Linked DNA regions of Homo sapiens: region 1 is linked to region 2. The links come from fine-mapping of genetic effects on gene expression. A gene starts in region 2. The other region holds a variant in brackets. All regions are shown on one strand. Distances are between the middles of the regions. Region 1 overlaps ZNF664-RFLNA (ZNF664-RFLNA readthrough). Region 2 holds the start of RFLNA (refilin A).

The links.
Region 1: its variant is fine-mapped to the expression of RFLNA in fibroblasts (GTEx, PIP above 0.99). The same link has a PIP of 0.9 or more in aorta, tibial artery and visceral fat.

What each region holds. Positions count from the first base shown.
Region 1 is chr12:124,234,450-124,239,821 of GRCh38, forward strand. All of the region lies in intron 3 of ZNF664-RFLNA (ZNF664-RFLNA readthrough), which reads left to right. Among named protein-coding and RNA genes, the nearest start is that of RFLNA, 58 kb to the right of the region's middle. The variant C/T (reference allele first, on the strand shown) is at 2,376.
Region 2 is chr12:124,292,767-124,298,138 of GRCh38, forward strand. RFLNA (refilin A) reads left to right here and starts at 2,327. Exons shown (of 3, transcript NM_001365156.1): 1 at 2,327-2,870. The coding sequence starts at 2,664. All of the region lies in intron 3 of ZNF664-RFLNA (ZNF664-RFLNA readthrough), which reads left to right.

The DNA.
Region 1 (5,372 bases), 58 kb before region 2:
TGAGTGTTCACTAAATGCTTGCCAAATGAATACATAAACCCTGTGGGTTTTTGAAAAAGGAACTAACATGCAATACCACCACTTGTGATTCTTCACAGTTAAAAAGGAAAGAGAAGTTTCACCTATGAGTTTTATACAGGGAAAACATGAACAGGTTTGATCAAGAGCCACAACATAAATTATAAAGTCAAAAATTAACATCATTAGAGATTTTTTTTGGCGAATTATCATGCCTGATGGTCCTTCTGCATCACTTTAATTCTTAATATTGTCATCATTGCCATGATCACCATCACCATGACAGCATTGCAGTTTGAGGATAATAAAATGTTAAGGACCCTAGAGAATATCTGGGGAGAGGCCTTGTCATACTCATGAAGAAATCCGAGGTCCAGAAAGATGACATGAATTGCTAAAGCATTTTTCCATGCAGTCCTCTGGTAGGTCTGGGTTCCAGTTAATCCAATTGTCACCACCACCACCACCATCACCACCATCACCTCCATCATCACCATTACCACCATAATCATCATCACCACCACCATCATTATCACCATCACCATAACCACCACCATCACCATCACCATCACCACCACCATCATCACCATCACCATCACCATCACCACCACCATCACCACCATCACCTCCATCATCACCATCACCATCACCACCACCATCACCATCATCAGGGTCATCACTGTCATCACACTGTCATCACTGTCATCACTGTCATCACCACCATCATTACCATCATCACCACCATCAGGACTACCATCCACAAATGAGCCATCTTTAGAATGCCTCAATGCTTGAAATACCCTAAGGGTGCCACAAGTGGTTCCAGATGAAAAACTCCTTAAGAACATTGGGAACCGCTATCTTGTCATAGCACCAACACTCTTGTGCAACGCCCCCTAGGCTGAAAACAGATCAGGGTCGTCTCCTGCCAGGAAGAGAAACTTCTTATGGCTCTGTTCAAATTCCCTAGAAAAATATCTGTGGCTGAGGAAGTTGTATAGTAAATTTTAGTGGTTTGTACATACAATTTCTAAAACTCCCTTTCCCCTGTTATTTATTTGCTTACTCTAATTTAAGCACTTAAGGAAGACCCAAAATTCAGTGAGTGAGTCCCCATCAACCACCAGAAACAGAAAACAGGTGTGTTGTGCTGACAGCCACATGACCAAGGCTGGGAGGGCTCCCCTCCCTGAGACGCCAAGATAAACACACCCACAGCATCGCCCTGGAAATGGTGGCTTACAGTTCAAATGCTCAGGAGGGGATAGGAAAAAAAAATCAGGACAGCACCATAGAGAACAATTTCCGTCATCAACTTCTGTGCTCCTCCTAAGGGCAGAGGACCTGCAAATTACACCACAGCCCCTTGAGTAGTTTCCACAAGGACCGATGTTGATGGGGATCTAGAAAAACAAAGGCAAGCCATGCCCCAGACAAGTCTCCATCTCAGAAGCGGAAGTCCTTGGCATAAGCCAACCATATTGGCAAAGCCCTCGCTGGGTGAAAAGTGCAAAGCGAGGACAAATTGATGATGAGAAAACCAAGTCTGAAGATTTACTTGGACAAGCTAAAGGCAAGGAGACAGAGCTGGAGCTGAAAAAAGAAATCCAGTGTTAACAGGAGGTGCCCAGTGTGTTAACGGCTGTTGTCCAATATGGTAGCTGCTGGCCACATGTGGCTACTGAACCCTGAAATGTGGCCAATGCAACTGAGAAACTGGATTTTTAGTTTAATTTAATTTTAATCAACCTAAATTCAAAAACTGATACTTGATTCAGTTGTTAGGAAACTTTTGAAGTATGTTTGAAACAACTTTAGAAGGTGAATCTAGCTTTTCAACTGTGAACGGAGTCTTTTATGGAATTTACAGTTTTTAAATAACTGATGAAATGTACATAACTTTACAAATTTTCCATTAACATATAACATGCAAATTGACATACAAATAAGTATAAAATGCACATTGGATTTCGAAGACTTGGTACCAAAAAATAATGTAAACTATCTCATTCGTATTTTTTAATATTGTTGGCCTGTTGAAATGGTAATATTTTAGATGTGCTGGGTTAAGGAATATATGTTATTAAAATTATCTTCACCTACTTCTTTTTATTTTTTCATGTGGCCAATAGAAAATTTAAAACTACATATGCAGCTTGAATTCTGTTTCTATTGGACAGGGTGGCTGCAGTCAGTCGGGAGCTGACAGATACTTCTGGCCAGAGCGGCTGTTGACACCGCTCAATTGTTCTGGTGTCTCCTGTCCTGTGCCCACTCCCCGGCCACCACCTTGGGAGTAAATGTTAGCTGAGAAGCTGTTGCTCACCCAGAGAGGAAGTTGGGTGTAATTAGAAAAC[C/T]GAATCATAACTTAGATATTTTACAGCTCCCTCTGTTATCATGGACTCTGGAACATTCCACAGAGTCTCAATACCCTGAGTAATTTCTGGGGAATTCTGACTCTGATCACCCAAGTAATTGGGTCAGCCTTGGTCTGACTTCTCAAAACCCCAAAAGTCCTATGCCCTGAATATGCCAGACTCTGTGGACCAGCTGATGTACCCTGAGCTGCCGCAGGAAGATTCTAGAGTTTGAGATACATAAGAATACAATGGTTTTGTAAATCTAAAATTATTTCAAATTAAAAAGTTTATTTTAAAAAATATGTAACAAGTCTTGGGCCTGAAGCCAACCTGAAGATTCCTCATTTTATGACCCCAAGATATGGCTTAGTAGTTCCTGAAGGAGTCATTCTCTAGTTCTCTGCCTACCAATATGGCAGCCACCAGCCCTGTGGGGCTACTGAGTGCTTTCTCCCTTCGGGTGGAGATGGATCACATGGAGATACGCCACACATGTGAAATACACACCGAATTCCAAAGGCTTAGTATGGAAAAATCATGCAAAATATCACCTTAATAATTTGTATATACTGATCACGTGTTGAAATGATAATATTTCAGATATACTGGGCTAAGTAAATTACATTATGAAAATTAATTTCACCTGTTCACCTGTTTCTTTTCACCCTTGTTAGTGTGGCCACTAGGAAATTCAAAATACACACACAGTTTGCACTTGTGGCTCAAATTCCATTTCTTTTTTTTGAGATGGAGTCTTGCTCTGTCGCCCAGGCTGGCGTGCAATGGCACCATCTCGGCTCACTGCAACCTCTGCCTCCCGGGTTCAAGCGATTCTCCTGCCTCGGCCTCCCGAGTAATTTTTATATTTTTAGCAGAGACGGAGTTTCGCCACGTTAGCCTTGCTGGTCTCAAACTCCTGACCTCAGGTGATCCACCCGCCTCGGCCTCCCAAAGTGCTGGGATCACAGGTGTGAGCCACTGGGCCTGGCCTTTTTTTTTTTTTGAGATGGAGTCTCGATCTGCCGCCCAGGCTGGAGTGCAGTGGTGCAACCTCAGCTCACTGCAACCTCCGGCCCCTGGGTTCAAGCGATTCTCCTGCCTCAGGCTCCCGAGTAGCTGGGACTACATGCGTGTGCTATCACGCCCAGCTAATTTTTAGCAGAGACAGGGTTTCACCATGTTGGCCAGGCTGATCTCGAACTCCTGACCTCAGGGGATCTGCCTGGCTCGGCCTCCCAAAGGGCTGGGATTACAGGCGTGAGCCACCGTGCCTGGCCTCAAATTCTATTTCTATTGGACATTGCCACTCCAGGACATCCTTCCTCCACCCTCAGAGGATGAGCTGTTCTCCTCTGATGGACACCTCATGAGATCCTATTCTGCATCTGCCCAGTGTGGCCACAGACAGGTCCCACCTCTGTAAGCCTCGTTCTCCTCGAGGAGAGGAGAATGCCTGTAACAGGTGAGAGAGCCTGGAAAATGGGTACTATAGTATTGTCTATGTCAGGGGGATGCTATGAGGAGTATTACCTGCAAAACGCTCGCTGCCCTGCCCACGGCATCAAAACCCTTCAGTCAATAAATCAAATATTATTTTTCATCTCTACTCCCACCCTTCCATCCGCTCTTGAGTCTGACCCTTTTTCATTTACCTCCAAGTTTTGCTTGCTTTCTCAACCCTCCTCCAAAACATCTTCCCCTCTTTCCCTACAAAACCCTTCCATCTTCAAAGATGCTTGGTTCTTCCCAGTTCTTGAAGTAAAACATCTCTTTCCTTGGACTTGTCTGATGACGGACTGTTCGATTTCTCTCCTTCCCTTTGCAACTCATGCGAGTGACCCACGTTTCCTTTGTCTGCTTTTGACCCGTCCACTCCTTTCAGGACCCCTGGTCAAGCCAGCCTCTGCCCACAGCCCGGGACTGACAGCACTCTCCAAAATTCACCGGGATCTTCATCTCACCACGCCTAAAGCCCCTTTACCCAGTTTCAGCCTTCTTAGCTTTTTAATTTTTTTAAACCAAGAACAAGAAAACTTCAAAATGCTCATTTAAAAGTACTTTTAATTACAGCAATCCAGCCCTCTCCCAGTGGGTCCCTAGGACTCTGCACCTTCCTGGGATGAGTGGGTAGGAGGTTGCCTGCATTTTTAATCTCTAAGCTCTTTGCGTTTGGGGAGTGAGGTCGTTCCTGTTTGGAAAGGCTGTTCTTATCTGGATGGAGCCCCACCTGTTTCCCTGGAGGGCAGAGTTCGCTGGGGAGTAACAGGAGTTAAGGCCTCCAGGTCCTCACAATCTTCATGTCACATGAGCTAAGCAGTAAACAGCTCTCCAGGACCCAAATAAAAAGGTCTTTATGGAGAGAACAAACACAAAGAAATGCCAGGATCCAATTCAAATGAATAAATAAACCCAGTTCCAAAGGCTGCAGGCCACAGGATTTCGGGGAGACTGAGCCAAGCAAGTTGGTTTCTTGAGAGTTGTTTCTGAAAGGGAAGGAGGAAGAAAGATTTCAGGGCCCGTCAGCAGATCCCAGCATCTCCAGACCCAGATCCATGAGCCATCTAGAAGTGAAAGAAGTTTCCCAACCAACAACTGTCCTACCAAATGTTGCGTTGGAAAATCAAAGTGAGATGACTCTCACAGGACCCGGGAACAGGGGACTCCAGGCATCCCGGGCCTGTGCGGGAGTTGGGGACCTGGGAGATGCTGACAACCAATGCAGGCTCTAGCAATCAGTGTCTTGTGATCTCAGCAACGCTGGGTCATCTGTCCCATGCCAGCATGGGGGGCTGGCCACTCTCTGTCCTGGCCTCTGCCACTCCATCCTTGTACAGCTTCACCCACCTCACCCCCTTCTCTGATGACTTTTTCTTTTCCCCACTGTTTCTTGTACTCATAATGTTCACACAAAGCTTCTCACAGCCCCGCGCCTGATGGTCCCAGCACTCTCTGCCTTCTCCGTGTCCAGGTTTCCGCTTCAGTTATGATGAGCCA
Region 2 (5,372 bases):
AGATCAAGATGAATGGCACAAGGGGGCCAGGATTAGTAGAGTGGGGCAAGGGACTTTCAGGACATCGCCCAAACACAGAAATCACCACAAATGGTATTTCGCTGCAATGTTTTAAAAGTCAAAATGGATGCAAACAGTTCAAGATGAACAAAACATCAACATTTTATCTTATTTTGAGACAGAGTCTTGCTCTGTTGCCCAGGCTGGAGTGCAGTGGCATGACCTCAGCTCACTGCAACCTCCACCTCCTGAGTTCAAGCAATTCTCCTGCCTCAGCCTCCTGAGTAGTTGGGATTACAGGCGCCCGCCACCACGCCCGGCTAATTTTTTTGTTATTTTTAGTAGAGACAGAATTTCACCATGTTGGCCAGGCTGGTCTTAAACTCCTGACCTCAGGGGATCCACCCGCCTCAGCTTCCCAAAGTGCTGGGATTACAGGCGTGAGCCACCGCACCAGGCCTCAAAATATCAACATTTCAAATAAAGACAGAGGAACCCTGCAATTCTGAGACTCCACCTTGCCCGCATCCTGCCCTGCCCTGGGTAGCTATTGTGGCCAAGGGGTCATTAGTCCCTGAGATAAGAAGAAATTAGTTCTTGCCGAAGACTTTCTCCAGGGAAGCAGAAGACTACTGGGTCTGGGTGGGTGAGCATTTGGGAAATGTGAATTTCCATGTGTCTGTGTTCCAGAAAGAATGCCCCCTCCCCCCACCGCTTTCGTCCTAGTCAGTGACAGTAGTTCAGCCAGTCATTCTGGTCAAGTGGCCCAAGGGCTGAAGAGGGCCTGGCTTGCCTAAGAATTGAAGCAAATGGAATCCGTAGTCCCATTGTTTTTTTCCCAGAATGTTCCAAATATTCAAACCTCTGGTTAGTTGGGTCTGTTTGGGCAGCAGACTTCCAGCGTTCTTTCCTGGGCGACATGGAAATGGGCTGTAAATTCACCTGGTGACAGGTGCATGCCTGTCACCCTGTGGGCTCTCAGGAAGCGGCCCCACCCTCTGTCAGTGTCCGGCATGCACCTTACTCCTGCTGCTGCAGGGCCTGCGCCCTGCTGTTCCCTCCACATGGTGCGCTAATTCTCACTGCTTGGCTATTCAGATCTTATCTTTGAAAATCGCCTCCTCCAAGAAGCCTTCCCTGAACACTCCAAAGCCTTAAGTTGTCCCTTTGACTATTCTTGGTTGCAGCACCTCATTAAGTTCCTTCCCTTAGACTCACAGCCTTAGCTTCCTGGTGCATTGACAGGCTCCCTCATCAGACTGGGCCCTCCACAGGGCAGGGGCCTGCTGTCTTACGCCTGCCCGTTCTGAGGTCCGGCCAAGGCTGGGTGCGGAATGGGAGCCTGAGAACATCTTCAAAGTGCTGCCCTCAGTTTGGGGGTGTCCAAAGAGCGGATTCTGACACCCGGCTTCCCGCCCCTGATCTTGGGCTTTCTGCTGTAAGCTGAATGGAAGTGAGTGTGTCTGGGCACACTTTCACCCCTCCTGGAGTCTACCTCTGTTCTCTTCGCCCTATTAGCCTCTCCCACATTCCTGCTTTTCAAAGCAGTCCGTGGACACCCCCAGCTGCCCCGCTTGCAGAATGGAAGGATGGATCCTCAGGAGTGGGGTGGGGGGCGTCTGTGTGGCTGGGCGCTGGAAATGCAGACATCCTTTGCCAGGCATCTGATAAGAAAACAGTAAGGAAGGGAAACACGTGTTCTTCTCTCTTGGGAGGAAGGAAAAGAAGGGAAAGACCGGCAGGACCCTTGTTCATGAGCGAGGACCTGCCTGGAAAAAATGCAGGAACAGCCAGATGCCGGGGGATTCCCGGAAGTGCTGCTCATCGCCCCCGCCGCCCCCACCCACAGGTTCCACCCAATGCTTTCCACCCTTAAGGCCCAAAGAGCTGGCCCTGGGTGTGCGGGTAACCGAGACGCCAGTACTAGGGCTGTGGTGGCCCTCCTCCCCATCGATTGTAAGTTACAGAGAAAAAGAAAACTCTAAAATAAAGTTTCTCAAGCTGCTTTTATTGGGACTTCAAATGAGATGGAGAAAACCTCCAAGAGCACCACGAAATAGGATGATGATGATTACTCGTATGTCTTGGGATGACTTGGGGACCCCACAAGGCACCCTCGGTGCGCCAGTGTGGTGCTTGTTCCGGGAGTGGGGGACACACGCGCCTCGTGGGACTCCAGCTGCTGGCTGGGCGCGCAGTGCCCAGGAGCGGGAGGGCCTCGGCGGAGGCGCCGGGCCGGGGCTGTTGCCCACCGCGCAGGCCGGGGCGGGGAGAGGAAGGGGGAGGAGGAGGCGCCTAGAAAAGGAGGCGCGGGCCGGGGAGGTGCGGAGAGGGCCGGGCGGCAACGTGCGCCTCGGGGCTGGGCCGGCCTGCGGGATCGCAGCGCAGCGCAGAGGCGAGGCTGGGCCCGGCGGGCGGGAGCCGCGGAGGGCGGAGGGCGGAGGGCGGCGGCGCTGGCAGGAGCGCGGCCCACGGCGGCGAGCAGGCTGCAGGCCCGCGGGGATCCGGGGCGCGGGGGGCGCCGGGCCTGATCGCCGCCTCTCGCGGTGCCCGCAGGTCCCCGGGCGCGCAGCTCTCGCCCCGCCGCCGCCTGCCCCGGGCCCCGGAGCGCGGTGGAGAAGCCCCCGGAGGAGCGGGGGGCCCGCGCCCCGCGCCCCCCAGACATGGTGGGCCACCTGCATCTGCAGGGCATGGAGGACAGCCTGAAGGAGCAGGGCCGGGAGGGCTTGCTGGACAGCCCCGACTCCGGGCTGCCCCCCAGCCCCAGCCCCAGCCCGCCCTTCTACTCCCTGGCGCCCGGCATCCTCGACGCGCGCGCGGGGGGCGCCGGCGCCTCCTCGGAGCCCCCGGGACCCAGCGAGGCCAGAGCGGTAAGGAGGCGCTCTCTCTCCCAAACGGGGGACCGCGTGGGCGGGTGGGTGAGGGCTGCCCCCAGAGACGCGCGCCACTGCAGCAGCAGGACGTGCCTCCTCCTCTACCTGCCCCGCAACCACGAAGGTGGCCAGTGACAGCCACGCTTCTCAGGTGGGGACCAGGGTGTGTAGGGGGAGGTGATCCAGGCTGACCCCGGACCTGGAGACGGCTCCCTGGCGGTGGGCCTCCCTCCAGAGTGATTCTTCCTATTGTCAGTAATAATGGGGGGCTCATGGGGCGGGGTAAAGGACGGTCCGAAATTCCCAAAGAAGTTGGCTGTTGGCTAGGTGGGCTTGCGCCCAGAGGCCCAGCATGTTGCAGACATCTGGACCCGGCCCCTCTGCTGCTCCGGGTGCCCTGTTTACTGTCCGGGCGCTGCCAATGTGAAAGCCTTTTCTTTCTTTCTTTCTTTCTTTCTTTCTTTCTTTCTTTCTTTCTTTCTTTCTCTCTCTCTCTCTCTTCTTCTCTTCTCTTCTCTTCTCTTCTCTTCTCTTCTCTTCTCTTCTTTTCTTTTCTTTTCTTTTTTTTAAATAACCAAACCCAGACAGGATTCCTTCCTTCCCGGGATGTTAAGGCATGTTGACGTGGAGCTTAGGCGGGAGGGGGAGGCTGGAACCTCGGGTCAGGAAACTCAGGAGTTTGTCTCCTGCCAGACTAAGTCCAGCCTGGGGGTGGACTCCGGTGGGGACCCAGCTTGGCGCCTTGCCTGAGACTGGGCACCCCCCGGCAGGCGGGGAAGCATATGGGCCGAGCGGGCGCCTTTGCAGCCTGAGGAAATGACAAGTTGAAATGAGTGATTGCCCATCCCTGCCCGCTCTCTGGCTGCGCCCTGCCCACCTTAACAGCTTTACTGCTGGGGCGTGTGTGCTGGCTCCACTCCCCTTTCCTGGGGCCCCGGGGATTCTTGCCTGGCACTCACAGGGCAAAAAAGGCCTCCCCGCCGCTGAAAATCCTCCTCCCCACAGCGGAAAGGAGCGGCTCCCCGGCCTCAAGCCTCAGGATATGACCTTCATTCGTGCCTTGCTTGTTTCTTAGCCTGGTGGGTCCCAAACTTGGTCGCCCATTGGAATCACTTGGAGAATCTTTAAAACCCACCCACACTCACCGCCCAGATAGTCTCACTGAATTGATAGGGGGTGCAGCTCGGCATCAGGAGGGTTTCAGTCTCCCTGGGTGATTGTACTGTTCAGCAAAGTCTGGGAGTCACTATCTTAGACCAAATCATGCAGCAAATTTGAACTTTGGTCTCTTTATGGGAGCCTGGCGGGTGGAAGGGGCAGTGAGGACTTCCAGGAGTTGATAGAGGTGACCAGGGCTGTTTGAAGTGAACCTGATCTTGCTGTCTAAAGGGGGCCAGCTTTCCTGCCAGAGCCTCTGGGACTTGGCACTGTCGCCCATTTGAGCTGCACACTTTGGGACTGAATCCCCGTGGTGCCTTGCACAGTGGGGCTTGGAGAAAAACGACCTGGAATCCGCCTTCTCCTTGGTTCCTTCCATGACCCAGAAGCCTCCTTACAGAGGGTTTTCTGGAAGCGTTCTCTGCCATCCGGGCCAGCCCGTGGCTGCCGCAAGAATAGCATGGCTGGCTTACTTGTCTTGGCTCTTCTACTTGACTTTATTTTTTCCCCTTCCTGCTCACTAGATGCCAGGTATGAAACTGTGTTGCCCTGATCTTCTAATTTGGCTTAAAAGCAAAGCCCGGGGCTGTTTCCTCATGGGTTATGATACTTGGCATTTAGATAGCTCATACCGTGTGCCAGGATAACTGTCCTAAGCTCTTTATTTACACCAATTCATTTAATTTTCACTATATTCCCATGAAGCCTACACTCCAATTAGCCCCATTTTCCAGAGGCGGAAGCCAAGGCACAGAGGAGGTTAGCAACCTGCCCAAAGTTGCCCAGCCAGGAAGCGGCTGTGCTGGGCTAGACCCAGAGAGTCTGACTGCAGAGTCTGCCCTTCAACCTCATATTATCCCCCTTTTCACTGTGCAGCTAATTAACTACCTGTGATTTTTTTTTTATTGGAAAACAAAATGCCTGTGTACCTACCAGGTTTGAAGGGCTGCTTTCAATAAAAGGGAGAAAGGATTGCCTGGCGCCCACTCTTCTCAGCTTTGGGGCTTGCCGCTGTGGCCATGCCCACCCACCCATCGCCCACCCCACAGGGCGCCCCACCTCCCCGTTAACTCCCGCTAAACTTTGCTGAGCGGTGTTTAACCGCACCCTGCTCACTGACGACTCAGGGAGAGTGCTTTTTAGGTGCAAATATCGGCACCCCATACTGTCTCAGGACAAAGAGGCGGAAACCTGTGCTGCGCCTCGCGGCTGAGGGTTTCCAACACCCGAGGAAGAGGATGGGGTGAGCGGTGCCGGGTTTCCATGTGGGCCTCAGGTTCAGACCGCGTTTGGCAGGGTGGGTGTCTTTGTTCCACTATCCAGTGAACGACACCACCTTTC